4 separate regions of the Homo sapiens genome follow, and regions 1, 3 and 4 are each reported to be linked to region 2. The links are microRNA targets in miRTarBase. Many come from high-throughput screens and were not tested one by one. Region 2 holds a microRNA gene; each other region holds the end of a gene's coding sequence.

Region 1 (3,000 bases), not on the chromosome of region 2:
GTCCTGCACCAGTCCCCGGAGCCCGCTGCCCGCGCCTCCCAGGCCCTTCCTCTACCGCCGCTCGCCCACGGACTCCGACGTGTCCCTCGACTCCGAGGACTCCGGGGCTAAGTCTCCAGGCATCCTGGGCTACAATATCTGTCCCCGCGGGTGGAATGGCAGCCTTCGGCTCAAGCGTGGCAGCCTCCCCGCCGAGGCCTCCTGCACCACCTAGAGCCCCACCCCCGACCCCACCCCGGGAGGGCAGAGCCAGAAGAAGGCTCATTAGACCTGGGGGACCCAAAGGGTCTGGCCTCTTTGGGCAGCCCCAGAGATGAGGGGTCAGCAGAGGAGAGCTCTGGGGTTGGGGATGGGTTAGGGACGCAAGCTTGAGTTCTAGCCCTTGCTCTCATTCAGCTGTTGTGTGACCCTGGGTAAGACCCTTCCTTGTTTGACCCTCAGCTTTCCCATCTGTTTAATGGTGGCTTTGGCCAAGGCAATCCACAAACGTCAAAATTCCCCTTCCCATCAGTACACACACCGATGCACACACACTCTCTCTTTCTCTCTCTCTCTCTCTCACACACACACACACACACACACACACACACACACACACACACACTAGTTAGTGCCTTGGATGAGGCGGGGCAGTGTGTATATGGACCCCTGGACTTGCTACCTTCAGGGTTCCATACTCGTCCCTCCCCTCCTGGCTCTGCTGTCTGGAGTCTGGCAAGCGGGGTGTGTTCAGAAGGTCCTAGGCCTGTGTCGCATGTCCAGGCACTGGCCTGACCATCCGGCTCCCTGGCACCAAGTCCCAGGCAGGAGCAGCTGTTTTCCATCCCTTCCCAGACAAGCTCTATTTTTATCACAATGACCTTTAGAGAGGTCTCCCAGGCCAGCTCAAGGTGTCCCACTATCCCCTCTGGAGGGAAGAGGCAGGAAAATTCTCCCCGGGTCCCTGTCATGCTACTTTCTCCATCCCAGTTCAGACTGTCCAGGACATCTTATCTGCAGCCATAAGAGAATTATAAGGCAGTGATTTCCCTTAGGCCCAGGACTTGGGCCTCCAGCTCATCTGTTCCTTCTGGGCCCATTCATGGCAGGTTCTGGGCTCAAAGCTGAACTGGGGAGAGAAGAGATACAGAGCTACCATGTGACTTTACCTGATTGCCCTCAGTTTGGGGTTGCTTATTGGGAAAGAGAGAGACAAAGAGTTACTTGTTACGGGAAATATGAAAAGCATGGCCAGGATGCATAGAGGAGATTCTAGCAGGGGACAGGATTGGCTCAGATGACCCCTGAGGGCTCTTCCAGTCTTGAAATGCATTCCATGATATTAGGAAGTCGGGGGTGGGTGGTGGTGGTGGGCTAGTTGGGCTTGAATTTAGGGGCCGATGAGCTTGGGTACGTGAGCAGGGTGTTAAGTTAGGGTCTGCCTGTATTTCTGGTCCCCTTGGAAATGTCCCCTTCTTCAGTGTCAGACCTCAGTCCCAGTGTCCATATCGTGCCCAGAAAAGTAGACATTATCCTGCCCCATCCCTTCCCCAGTGCACTCTGACCTAGCTAGTGCCTGGTGCCCAGTGACCTGGGGGAGCCTGGCTGCAGGCCCTCACTGGTTCCCTAAACCTTGGTGGCTGTGATTCAGGTCCCCAGGGGGGACTCAGGGAGGAATATGGCTGAGTTCTGTAGTTTCCAGAGTTGGCTGGTAGAGCCTTCTAGAGGTTCAGAATATTAGCTTCAGGATCAGCTGGGGGTATGGAATTGGCTGAGGATCAAACGTATGTAGGTGAAAGGATACCAGGATGTTGCTAAAGGTGAGGGACAGTTTGGGTTTGGGACTTACCGGGGTGATGTTAGATCTGGAACCCCCAAGTGAGGCTGGAGGGAGTTAAGGTCAGTATGGAAGATAGGGTTGGGACAGGGTGCTTTGGAATGAAAGAGTGACCTTAGAGGGCTCCTTGGGCCTCAGGAATGCTCCTGCTGCTGTGAAGATGAGAAGGTGCTCTTACTCAGTTAATGATGAGTGACTATATTTACCAAAGCCCCTACCTGCTGCTGGGTCCCTTGTAGCACAGGAGACTGGGGCTAAGGGCCCCTCCCAGGGAAGGGACACCATCAGGCCTCTGGCTGAGGCAGTAGCATAGAGGATCCATTTCTACCTGCATTTCCCAGAGGACTAGCAGGAGGCAGCCTTGAGAAACCGGCAGTTCCCAAGCCAGCGCCTGGCTGTTCTCTCATTGTCACTGCCCTCTCCCCAACCTCTCCTCTAACCCACTAGAGATTGCCTGTGTCCTGCCTCTTGCCTCTTGTAGAATGCAGCTCTGGCCCTCAATAAATGCTTCCTGCATTCTTCTGCCTCCTGTGTCATTTTCAGCTGTGTCTGATGTCCTTCCCTTCTCCCCAAGCATGGAGCAGTCCATGGGACTCTGGGTGGCTGGGAATATTTGAGACATATGGGATGGGAGCTTGGGAAGAAGCAGCCATGGGGAGAGATGGGAACAACGGACAACTTGAGGCCATAGAAGTACCTGGACTGCAGTCCTGGTCCTGTCATGGACGAGCGGGGTGACCCTGGGTGAGCCCACTCCTTCTCTAGGCCTCAGCTTCCCCATCCGTATAATGGGGAGAGTGGGTCTAGGTAATGTCTCAGGGTGGTATTGTCCAGGCCCTGACCACAGAGCACTATCACCAGAGTGGGCAGGGCCAAGCTGGGTCAGGGCTCTGTGCTCTGAGGCTGTTTCCTCATGGCAGGTGGGGGTGCCAGGGCAGGAAAGGCGCCACTGTAAGAGGTCCCGTCTGAGCCAGGCAGCCCCAGTGAGGCAAGGACTCGGGCCATGAGGCATCCTCTCCTGGCAGGAGTGTCCTTTGGCCAGAGAAGGGGATTGTGATCCTGCTCCCAGGTGAGGCTAAGCTTGCCCTGGGAACACACCTCACTCTTCCTCTCTAGAAGCTCAGGCCCACCGAGGGCCAGGAAGCTAAGGTCAGGGTGGTGGACAGCAGAATCTAGGCTTCTGA
Region 2 (3,245 bases):
AGTTGTCAAACTGAAGTACTATTTTTCTCCATAAATAAACAAAATGGTAGAAGAGTACACAAAACCATAAACAGATTCTACCTGAGAATTAAACCACTAAAGTAGAAGCCAAGCTTTAGATAGCTACAAAACTGGCCATTACTTCTTATACTTCACTTTTCTGTAAAATATTCTAGGCAGAAGATTTTTTAAAATAAAATCACCAATAAACAATTTTGTTTAAAATTTTTATGAGTCTGTGTGGTCTCCTAACTCTTTAAGAATGAGAAATGTATTTAAGGATTCATTTAAGGAAGTAGATAAAGGCATGGTACAGAATACCTACATATTAATTTGTGGGATGTGTAGACTGAGTTATGAGAATACTCAAGTTAAAAGTCACTTTCGCATTCCTTTCAAACAAAAGGCTTTGTCAGGTGAATGCTATGTTTTATATTTAATTAGCAATAACAAGTAAGATTTAATTGTAACCAAACTCAGCTATTTAGAAGTATCTTGTTTGTAAAACAGCGTAGAATAATGTCAACAATTTAGCAAGAAAACCCAATTCACAGCATTTCAGAGCAAAAAGGGATAGAGGTCCTCTATTGCAACTTCTGTGTCATGGATGAAAACAGTGAGGCTCAAAAAGTTTGAGTGACACATCAAGAAGTGGTAAGAGTCAAGACTAGAACTCATGTCTCCTACTGCCCAGCCTAATGTCCTTTATGCTAATCACACATATTTAACGGCTAGGGTGTTGAATGATACTAGAATGAATTATACATTATATAAATTATTCATTATGCAAATTAATTTTTGTTGTCTCAGTTTTCTGTATTCATGACATATTTGAATTTAACAAGATTCATCTGGTACTTCTAGCTATTTCTACATTTTATGAGTTGTATACATTTTATATCAATAAGTTATAAAACAATAGCAGAAGTCACTTCTTTTTTCCAGATGAGACAGCAAAACCAGAAACTGACCCTTCAACTTTGAAGTAGCTTTTTGTTTGTTTCTTTCCCCTTTATATAGGATGTCTTGAAGCCGAGAAGGAAGAGCTGTTGGAGAGACGAGGAGTTAAGAGTTCATTCGGCTGTCCAGATGTATCCAAGTACCCTGTGTTATTTGGCAATAAATACATCTGGGCAACTGACTGAACTTTTCACTTTTCATGACTCAGCTGGAACCCTCCACAACCAGAAGAGCCTGTTATAAAGTGAAAAGTTTGTGATCTCTTAATCTAATGAAATGGGAAGTAGGAATTGCTTGTGGGTGAAGAGACACCATTGTAAATGTAAGTGGGAATGTATTTTAGTATGCAACTAAATTGATTTTTAAGTGTCTTGACAAAAGATAAAGAGGATTTGTTTTTCTAGCTTGCAAAATTAAAATCAAATTAACAGAAAATTTTGATCTGCTCCCATCAGTGACACTTGTCGTGTACTTAACTCACCGGTATAAAATAACTATTTTATACTGTGATGGAGAGTAGCTGGCAAATGCTGGCAAATATTATTTGTATATTACAATATTTAAAAGATATCTAACCTCAAGCTATGGCTATGTACATGGATCCATCTAATGTATTTACCCCAATCACTCTTTATCTCATGATGCAATTTCATTTTATTCATAGCAATTATCACGATTTGAAATTATCCTACATCTTTGTTTAAATGTTTATTTTCTGTATCTCCAGCTAGAATGTAAGCTCCATTGGAGCAGGGGCCTGGTTTACCTTGTTTACTACTACATGCCCAGCATCTGGCATAGTGCCTGGCATGTAATAAGCAATCGATAAATATTTGAATATATGAAACTACTATTATACAGCTTTTGGTCCTGCAGATCGGTTGGAGTTGGTCTCCAACACAGATATTTAGCATATGGTTTGCTCCATTAGCTCTGCTCTTTGAAAACCTTCAGTTTGTTGTGCTATGTGCATACTAACACTGAGATAATTCCCAGATAGTTCTGCTACCACCTATGGAGAAAGCAGTTTCAAATTGCTGGGCATTCTGCCCACTAAGGCAAATTCTCTCCATGTCTGTTACTACCATCATAGAGTGATTTGCAATAGCTACTTTAAGTCTATCAATTGGGAAGTGTATGTTTTTAAAGTATTATTTTATGTAAATGGAATAGGTCTAGCTGTGAAAAACATAATTTTATATGCTGTAGATTTTGAGTTAACTGTTGTGTGAATTCGCACATAATTTAACAATAATCACGCTCATGGAACATGTCAAACACAAGCAGAGGTATTTAGTAAATACAAATGAGGAGAAAAAAATTTTTTTTTCCATTTGAATTCCAAGCATAGGAGGAACAGGTAAATCTATTTAAATAACCACTTAACATTATCTTGGAGGAGAGGGAATAAAAGTAATGAGCCTAGACTTGCATTCAAATTGAATAATCACTGGTGGAAGAGTAGTCTTTAATTTCATTGATGATAATAACTGAAAAACTTTCTATCAAAATAATAAAAATTATCTGATTTGACTATAATTAGCAAAGGTGAGTTTTTAGTATGACAAATGTATGATTTATTAGAAAATCGCTAGAGTACATTTGAAGTTGAAAGGAAAACTTCCTACAATATTCATTAGTCCTAAGGATAATTTTTGAATTAAATGAGCTCCCCCAAAATTATTGTAAATCTGTGCCACATTAATATAATCTTCCCAGGACTAATCTGAACATTTATGGCTAATTCATTTTTGATTTAGACATCTGCTAAAAGCTCACTGGGTATAATAACTAGAGGGATAATATTTGAATTATGAGTCATAATTTCTGAACACTGAAAATTGATAAAAATCAAACTTCTATATGTATTATTATTTATTCAATTTTTAAATGCTTTGTTATAAAAAGTGAGACAGAAGTGATCTAGTTGACTATATTCTACAATTTCTTTTTTTTTTGAGACAGGGTCTGTTGCCCTAGCTGGAGTAGAATGATGTGATCAGGGCTCACTGCAGCCTCGACCACCTGAGTTCAAGGGATCCTCCCACCTCAGCCTCTCAAGTAGCTAGGACCAGAGGCACACGCCACCACATCTGGCTAATTTTTTGTATTTTTTGTAGACATGGGGTTTTGCCATTTTGTCCAGGCTGGTCTTGAACTCCTGAGCTCAAGCAATCCACCCACTCCGGCCTCCCAAAGTGCTGGGATTATAGGCGTGAGCCATCGCACATGGTCTATTCTACAATTTAAAAAAATTTAGTGTGAAATTTAGTCTTTCAGTTTGA
Region 3 (3,245 bases), not on the chromosome of region 2:
TCATGAATACTTTAGCACCTTCCCCTCTTGGTACTGTATAGTGAGTTCTCATGAGATCTGGTTGTTTACAAGAGTGTGGCACCTACCCCCAATCCCCGCCTCTTGCTCTTCCTCTGGCTATGACTGCTTCCCCTTCGTATTCTGCCATGAATGAAGTTTCCCGAGGCCTCCCCAGAAGCAGAAGCTGCTATGTTTCCTGTTCAGTCTGCAGAACCATGAGCCAATTAAAGCTCTTTTTTTGATTACTCAGTCTCAGGTATTTCTTTATAGCAGTGTGAGAATGGACTAACACAGGTGAGCACCACCACACCCGGCTAACTTTTTTTAGTAGAGATGAGGTCTCGCTGTGTTGCCCAGGCTGGTCTTGACCTCCTGAGCTCAAGCAATCCTCCTGCCTCGGCCTCCCAAAGTGCTGGGATTACAGGCATAAGCCACCATATCCAGCCCAAATTCTCTGATTTGAAAATTCAGTGACTCTAGAAAAATTTCCTGATTCCACATAAATACTCAAATTCCTTGATATGTTGTACTCCTTTATGTCTTATTTTACATAAACAAACTTTATGTAAGTTTATCAGTGCAAAACAGAATTAGAAAAGATGGCAACATAAACCTTCAATTATTATTTAAGAATGGTATGACCTCAACCAAAATCAGATTTAAAAAGAAATATCAGAATTTTTTTTTTTTTTATTAGGGAATCCTAAAAAAAAAAAATTACCATTTGGAATACCTGCTGCACATTAACTTTGAGGGTCGTCTTGGGAAAAAAAATGAGTAATTATTCTTGTCTGGCTTTGTGAAATTTTTCAGAGTAATATCACTAGGAGGAAACTGGATATAATTTGGTACTTTCTCATATGGCAATGACATGAAGTAATAAATGGCAAGTGGGAAAGGGGAAGGAAGAAGAAAAAAGTATAGAATAAATCATAACAGGTAAAAAAAAAGTTTTTTTTGTAAAGAAGGGATAAGGAATTTGAAACTGTAAGAATAGAGTATCAAATTATATATATATATAACAATTTTCTATCTTAAAAATAAAACTGGAATGTTATTTCACTTAAAATGTACAGCATGCAAAATACTCTGTAATAGTAAAAAAAAAAAAAAGAAAAATACACCAACGTAAAGTCTCACAATTTTCCAGTAAATGAGATTTCTGGGTCAAAAATCACCATTACAAACCCTTTAACCAAGGATTTATTTTTTGTTTCCAGCATTACAATTTGCAATAATTCATAGATTTCCATTCCAGTAAGTTTTAAGACACAGATCTCACACAGGCAGTTGGGTCCACATGTTAAGAACTCATTAATTCAGCAAAGAGATCACCCAGCCGCCATTCTCATATGAACAATGCTCACTGCTACCTGAACATTTTAAAGTATGTTATGAGTTGTTTTGATGATGACAGCTGCAGCTTTTCACCACATTTTCAATTACTGAATTGCATGTTTTTTTTCCACCTTGATAACTTAGGGTCAGTAGAAAGCTATTTACTTACATGTTATAGTCAATATAACTATACTAAATGCCCATTTGTAACTGAAGAAACTCACAGACACAGTATGAACTATATTATACAAAATCATGACCATGAGTTTCAGTGAGAGATTCTGTCTCTCTCTTAAAGCAAGAAATATCCCACAGCTCAGATTTACATAAGTAGTGCCGCCTTTTAAATAAAAGTCAAATGCTGTCCTGCCTGTAAAATTATAAATATTTCTAACCCACTTTACAGAATTTTAAAATGCTTATAAATGCATTATCTTCCAGTAAATAAACATTATGGTACTGAACCTCATTTAAAAAAAAGTCATCACACTGGCCCATGGAAATATCTAGGACTATATCTCCTAACATTAGAAAAATTAAACCAAATAAGGGGAAAAAAGCAAAGAAGAAAAAAGAAATTTTACAAAATGGCAACTACTATGACCTAAAAGAGTGTACTGAGATGTCTTCATTCAATTCAGTAACTAAACATTTCTGGAATGAACATTTGTAGATAACTAGGTAAGGAGAGTGATTCTCTTAGCACTCAGGTCAAAATCACAAGGTATGGAGAAATAATTTCCACATTCTATAAGGAAAGACAGACTTTGAAACGGAGTGACTGTTTAAAAACCACATACCAAGATTTAGCCAGAATATTGAAGATTGGCAGATCTTGATGGAGTGAAATCTTCAGAGGCAACAAATTAAAAATCATGATCCTATGGATGCCACTTATTTTTACCAATGTGAAAAAAGGAAAGATGATTGCAAAGTACAGTATACACTGAACAGGTGAAATATGGGACATTATGAACAATTTAAATAACCAAAATGTTCCCTATGGAAGCATAAAAACATGATTTTCAAATTGATTCAACTTGTAGTGTGTCTGTTAGATGTAAGTAGTAGTTTTAGTTCTGTGTCCTGCTGAGTTGCTCTTTACATAAAATATTTCCTTCATCTTAAAAAAAAGGCTTCTGCATGGCACTGAGTCTTTCAGTGTAGGAGAGGAGGAAACTTTGTAGAGTGGACGGACAAACTTGTTTCCAAGGTCCCCACCCAGGTGATTCATTCCATCAAACTCACAGTATCTCCAAATCTACATGTCGAACTTCAGGATTTCGTTTCTGGAAAGAAAAATCACCACCACATTATTTGTAGCAAAATAAAATCTTGTTTCTTTTTATTCCTTTTGGTCATTAGAGCCAATGAAAACATTTGCAAACTATTTCACTATAGCATACTAATGAGAGAAATAGTTGCATAAGAAAAAAAGTAAGATCAATAGGTAAATAGACATACTATAAACAGTACAATAAGTAGTATCACATTCCTAAGTTTGTTCATGTGTTTGTTAATACAAAAGTGCATTAAGGATCTAGTACATGCCAAGCATTGCGAAGCACTGGAAATACACATTTTTGTGTGGTGAAAACAAAATCACTGCAAAACAATAATAATCAAAAAGAGTAAATTGACAACCACTCATTTTATATACTTTAGCAACAATCCATATATTCTTGGGCCGGGCCCTGTGCTAGAAAACAGAGCTATGATTATTAAATAAGACTCTGTTCCTGACCCTGAGTGACTCAGTTTAGCTAGGGAGACCAGCATAGCAGTAATCATCTACAAGTTAAAGTATTAGAGCTAATAATAAAAAGTTAACATTTATTGCTTACTCACTCATGTATCAAGTACTGTGTTACATGAGCACATGTATGTGTGTTTTAAAAGCCTCATAA
Region 4 (3,245 bases), not on the chromosome of region 2:
ACTGCCACCCAACAGAACTTAGTCTTTAATTTGCAGTGTAATAAGGATGGAATTATTCCTGAGAGAGACTAAGTATAATGCCTGAATAATAATTTGGAGAATTGCTTAGAAAAAGAAGCCATTTTATTTGAGGGAAATAGCCTTGAGGAGTCCTTAGAATTAGAAAACATGGGTTCTGTTGCTAGCCTTATCCTCAATGCCCTGGTCGTTTTCTATAATGGAAACCTTAAATTTATTATTTGGCTTAAAATTAGTATTATGCTTCTTAAATTTCTTTTTTTTTCCCAAACAAAATGCAATCCATTTGTTAATGTAGAGAGGGTGTCCGTGTGATTTTGGCAGCATCATTTATGGTCTCCCTGCCTCAAGTAGTCTACCTGCAAAACGGGGACAACAGTGCCTGTCCAGAACTTTGCTGCAGGGATACTGTGTTATTCAAGAGACCTAGATCAGCAATGCTGGAGATGATGTGTGTTCAAGTGTAAGACGTTAGTTTCCATAAGTAATGGCCTCTGACCTTGTTTTCATGGCTTCTCACATTCCAGATATCCCACTCAACCCTGTCGCTTTGGAAAACTCCTGTTGCTTTTGCCAGCTTTACGTTCTATTAGCCCATCAACTATAGAAGAAGTGTTTTTCAAAAAAACCATCGGCAATGTGCCAATTACAAGACTGCTTTCAGATATGTACAAATCCAGTGATATCTAAGCTCACAAGATACCCACTTTTCAGGATGGGACAGTATCAGATGAACTTCAACCCATGGAGAACAAGCCTCAACTAACAAACCCTTCAGGAAGCATATACCGGGGAATGTGTAGCCTTCAGGAAAAAAATGCCAATTGACACAAAGCATTCCAGTAGCTATGACCTGCCGCCCTGACCAGGATAGGGCGGGTGGGAAGGAGAGGGGTGCAACAGGACCGCCTGCACTGAAAACTCACTGCTGCCATGCCCTGGGAGGGGGCAAACTGGGGGTTGCCACAGGCCGTGCCATTCTGCCTCTTACCTGGAAGATCAGGCTGAACGATCAAAAGCTGAAACATAAGTAGTGCTTTCTCTTCCTTTTTAGCATACAAAGTTTGGTAACCAAATATAGCTCTGTGTATAACATCGTACTGCGGCCTTCAAAACTACGTTATGTTGGAGCATTTATTTTAAAAATAATGGTAGGTTTTAAATTAAAAGTGTTATCAAAAGTTTCCCCTCTATTGTAATACATTATTAAGTGGCCTTCAGAACTGAGTTAATAAGTGAAAAGTAGCTTATGCCATGTGATTTGCTTTTTCTCTATCTTCTTTTTTCTTTTCTTTCTCTTTCTTTTGTTCTTTCTTCTTCTTTTTTAATACCATAGGCCAGGCAACCTTGTCAAAGGAATTGATGGACAAAATGAGATTCTCACCAGGACTTCAGGTTGGATAACATGTCAAAAAGAGAAGAGCTTTACTAAAAGAACATAAGTCAAGGGAGGATGAATAAAAACAGCAAAACCAAATAAAGTGGAGATGAGTGATTGAGTGAGGTAGATTGCTGTCCCGTTAACATAGTGCTGAAACCAAAGGCAGTGGGGGTCCAAACTCGTGGTGCAGCAAGTCACACCAGACAGGAAACGAATATGGACGTAATTGCAGAAGGAACTTCAAGGAGATGAATGAATGCTAAAAGGGTTCTTGACTGATCCATTGCTAACAGCCTGAGACTCTTCAATGCCTTTCCGAAAACTGGTTTCTAGTAAAGCCTTGAATGAACACACACACACACACACACACACACACACACACACACACACACACACACCGTCCTACACTTTAAGCTGCTCCTTTGGTATGACTCTATACTTATGGAAATGTAGAAACAAACATTTTTAAATAGCTGCTGTACTTTTCACATTTTGATTTATTAGGTACTAGCACTGAGGAAAAAAAATTCAGCACTTGGACTATCATAGGATGAGTAAAACTTTTCTTGTACAAAGTGAATTAACTGATTTGTGAAGTTAAAAGGTTGTACTCATTGTATTTACAAAGAATAAAAATATATTGAATTTAAATGAACTCTTTCTGATTTCTTACCCTCCCTCCCTGGCTGGTTCTCACCCACCAGAAACAAGGTAGGGGCAGCAGCTGGTGTTAAAACTGAAGCTCGGAGCACTCCAGCACAGAGCCTGCAGAACTGAACTACAAAGGCAATTTCCTTCTTACAGTGAATACCATTTGGAAAATGATGAATAAAGAAATAAAACGTAAGATTCTGTTCTCTACAGCTCTCAAATGTAATTGCATCTGTTAGAAAAATTGCTGTGTGAGGAGGAAGGAGGCCGATTAACAGAGTCTTCATTCCTTCCTCTGTTTCTAACTCTCTTGCCAACATTTCAATCCTGACCAGTCACTTGAAATCATTTAATGATCAAAAAGATAAAGTATGATAAAGTTCATATGGTGAGTAAGATGTGGAGGGAGCAGTAGAAATGTCATCCAGATGTTCCCAGCAAGTCTTAAGGCACCGGTCCCACAAGCAAAGGCCATCAGAGGTGCCCAAGGCCACAGGCACTGTAGACTCCTTTTGGGTGGCAGCTCCAGCAAGAGATGCTTGTGCCTCTGCTCTTGCTAAAATGGTCTTGCGGACCGTATATGTGAAATTTCAATCAGCTGTGCACTTCTTGTCTACTTATTCTACGGAGAATGAGAATTGGTCTTAAAGAAAAGCACAGTACTCAAAGACTGTGTAAGAATGTCCCTTGCAACACTGTTCGTATTTAACAACTTTAGTATCCATTGACAGATAATAGGTACATTGTGGTGAATACAGACAATGTTACCGTAGGCAAAGTGAATGGCTAGAGCTAATGTATCAACATGGGTAAATCTGAAATACAGTGTGTTTGTGTGTGTTATGGGGAAAGTAAATTGCAGAGGGCACATACAGCTTGGTATCATTTATATAAAGTTTTACAACCTACAGAACAATACTAGACAATGTTTATGGGCATATAAATGTATAGGAAACATTTAAAACAGGCATGAGTATTATAAACACTAACTGCTGGATAGTGGCTACTTCCAAGAAGAGATGGGATGGGTGAAGGGTATAACAGGACCCTCAAATGTTTCTGTAATGGTTAATTTCATAAGAAAAAAATCTCAAACAAATATGAGATGAATGACAAGATTTAGTAAAGCTGAGTGATGGGTCCAAGGCTGTTCATCTGTGTATCAGTCAAGTTTTCCTTCAATAATACTGAATAA

What was found. The annotated mature microRNA hsa-miR-1298-5p reads UUCAUUCGGCUGUCCAGAUGUA and lies in region 2 at 1,073-1,094, shown strand. An mRNA with a match to its seed (bases 2 to 7 or 8) in the 3' UTR can be bound and repressed. Matches are read on the target gene's strand: a 7mer-m8 pairs with bases 2 to 8, a 7mer-A1 pairs with bases 2 to 7 and ends in A, and an 8mer does both.
Region 1: miRTarBase lists SYNPO as a target of hsa-miR-1298-5p. Seed matches in the 3' UTR shown: 7mer-A1 at 1,916-1,922.
Region 3: miRTarBase lists SLC30A9 as a target of hsa-miR-1298-5p. Seed matches in the 3' UTR shown: 7mer-A1 at 2,568-2,574 and 7mer-A1 at 1,966-1,972.
Region 4: miRTarBase lists NR2E1 as a target of hsa-miR-1298-5p. Seed matches in the 3' UTR shown: 7mer-A1 at 1,650-1,656 and 7mer-A1 at 1,742-1,748.

The regions. Positions count from the first base shown.
Region 1 is chr5:150,656,874-150,659,873 of GRCh38, forward strand. SYNPO (synaptopodin) reads left to right here. Exons shown (of 3, transcript NM_007286.6): 3 at 1-2,334. The coding sequence ends at 214. Among named protein-coding and RNA genes, the nearest start is that of MYOZ3, 2.9 kb to the right of the region's middle.
Region 2 is chrX:114,714,178-114,717,422 of GRCh38, forward strand. It overlaps MIR1298 (microRNA 1298), which reads left to right and starts at 1,056; the gene lies at 1,056-1,167. All of the region lies in intron 2 of HTR2C (5-hydroxytryptamine receptor 2C), which reads left to right.
Region 3 is chr4:42,085,464-42,088,708 of GRCh38, reverse strand. It overlaps SLC30A9 (solute carrier family 30 member 9), which reads right to left. Exons shown (of 18, transcript NM_006345.4): 18 at 1-2,627. The coding sequence ends at 2,583. Among named protein-coding and RNA genes, the nearest start is that of BEND4, 66 kb to the left of the region's middle.
Region 4 is chr6:108,186,756-108,190,000 of GRCh38, forward strand. NR2E1 (nuclear receptor subfamily 2 group E member 1) reads left to right here. Exons shown (of 9, transcript NM_003269.5): 9 at 546-2,050. The coding sequence ends at 708. Among named protein-coding and RNA genes, the nearest start is that of NR2E1, 22 kb to the left of the region's middle.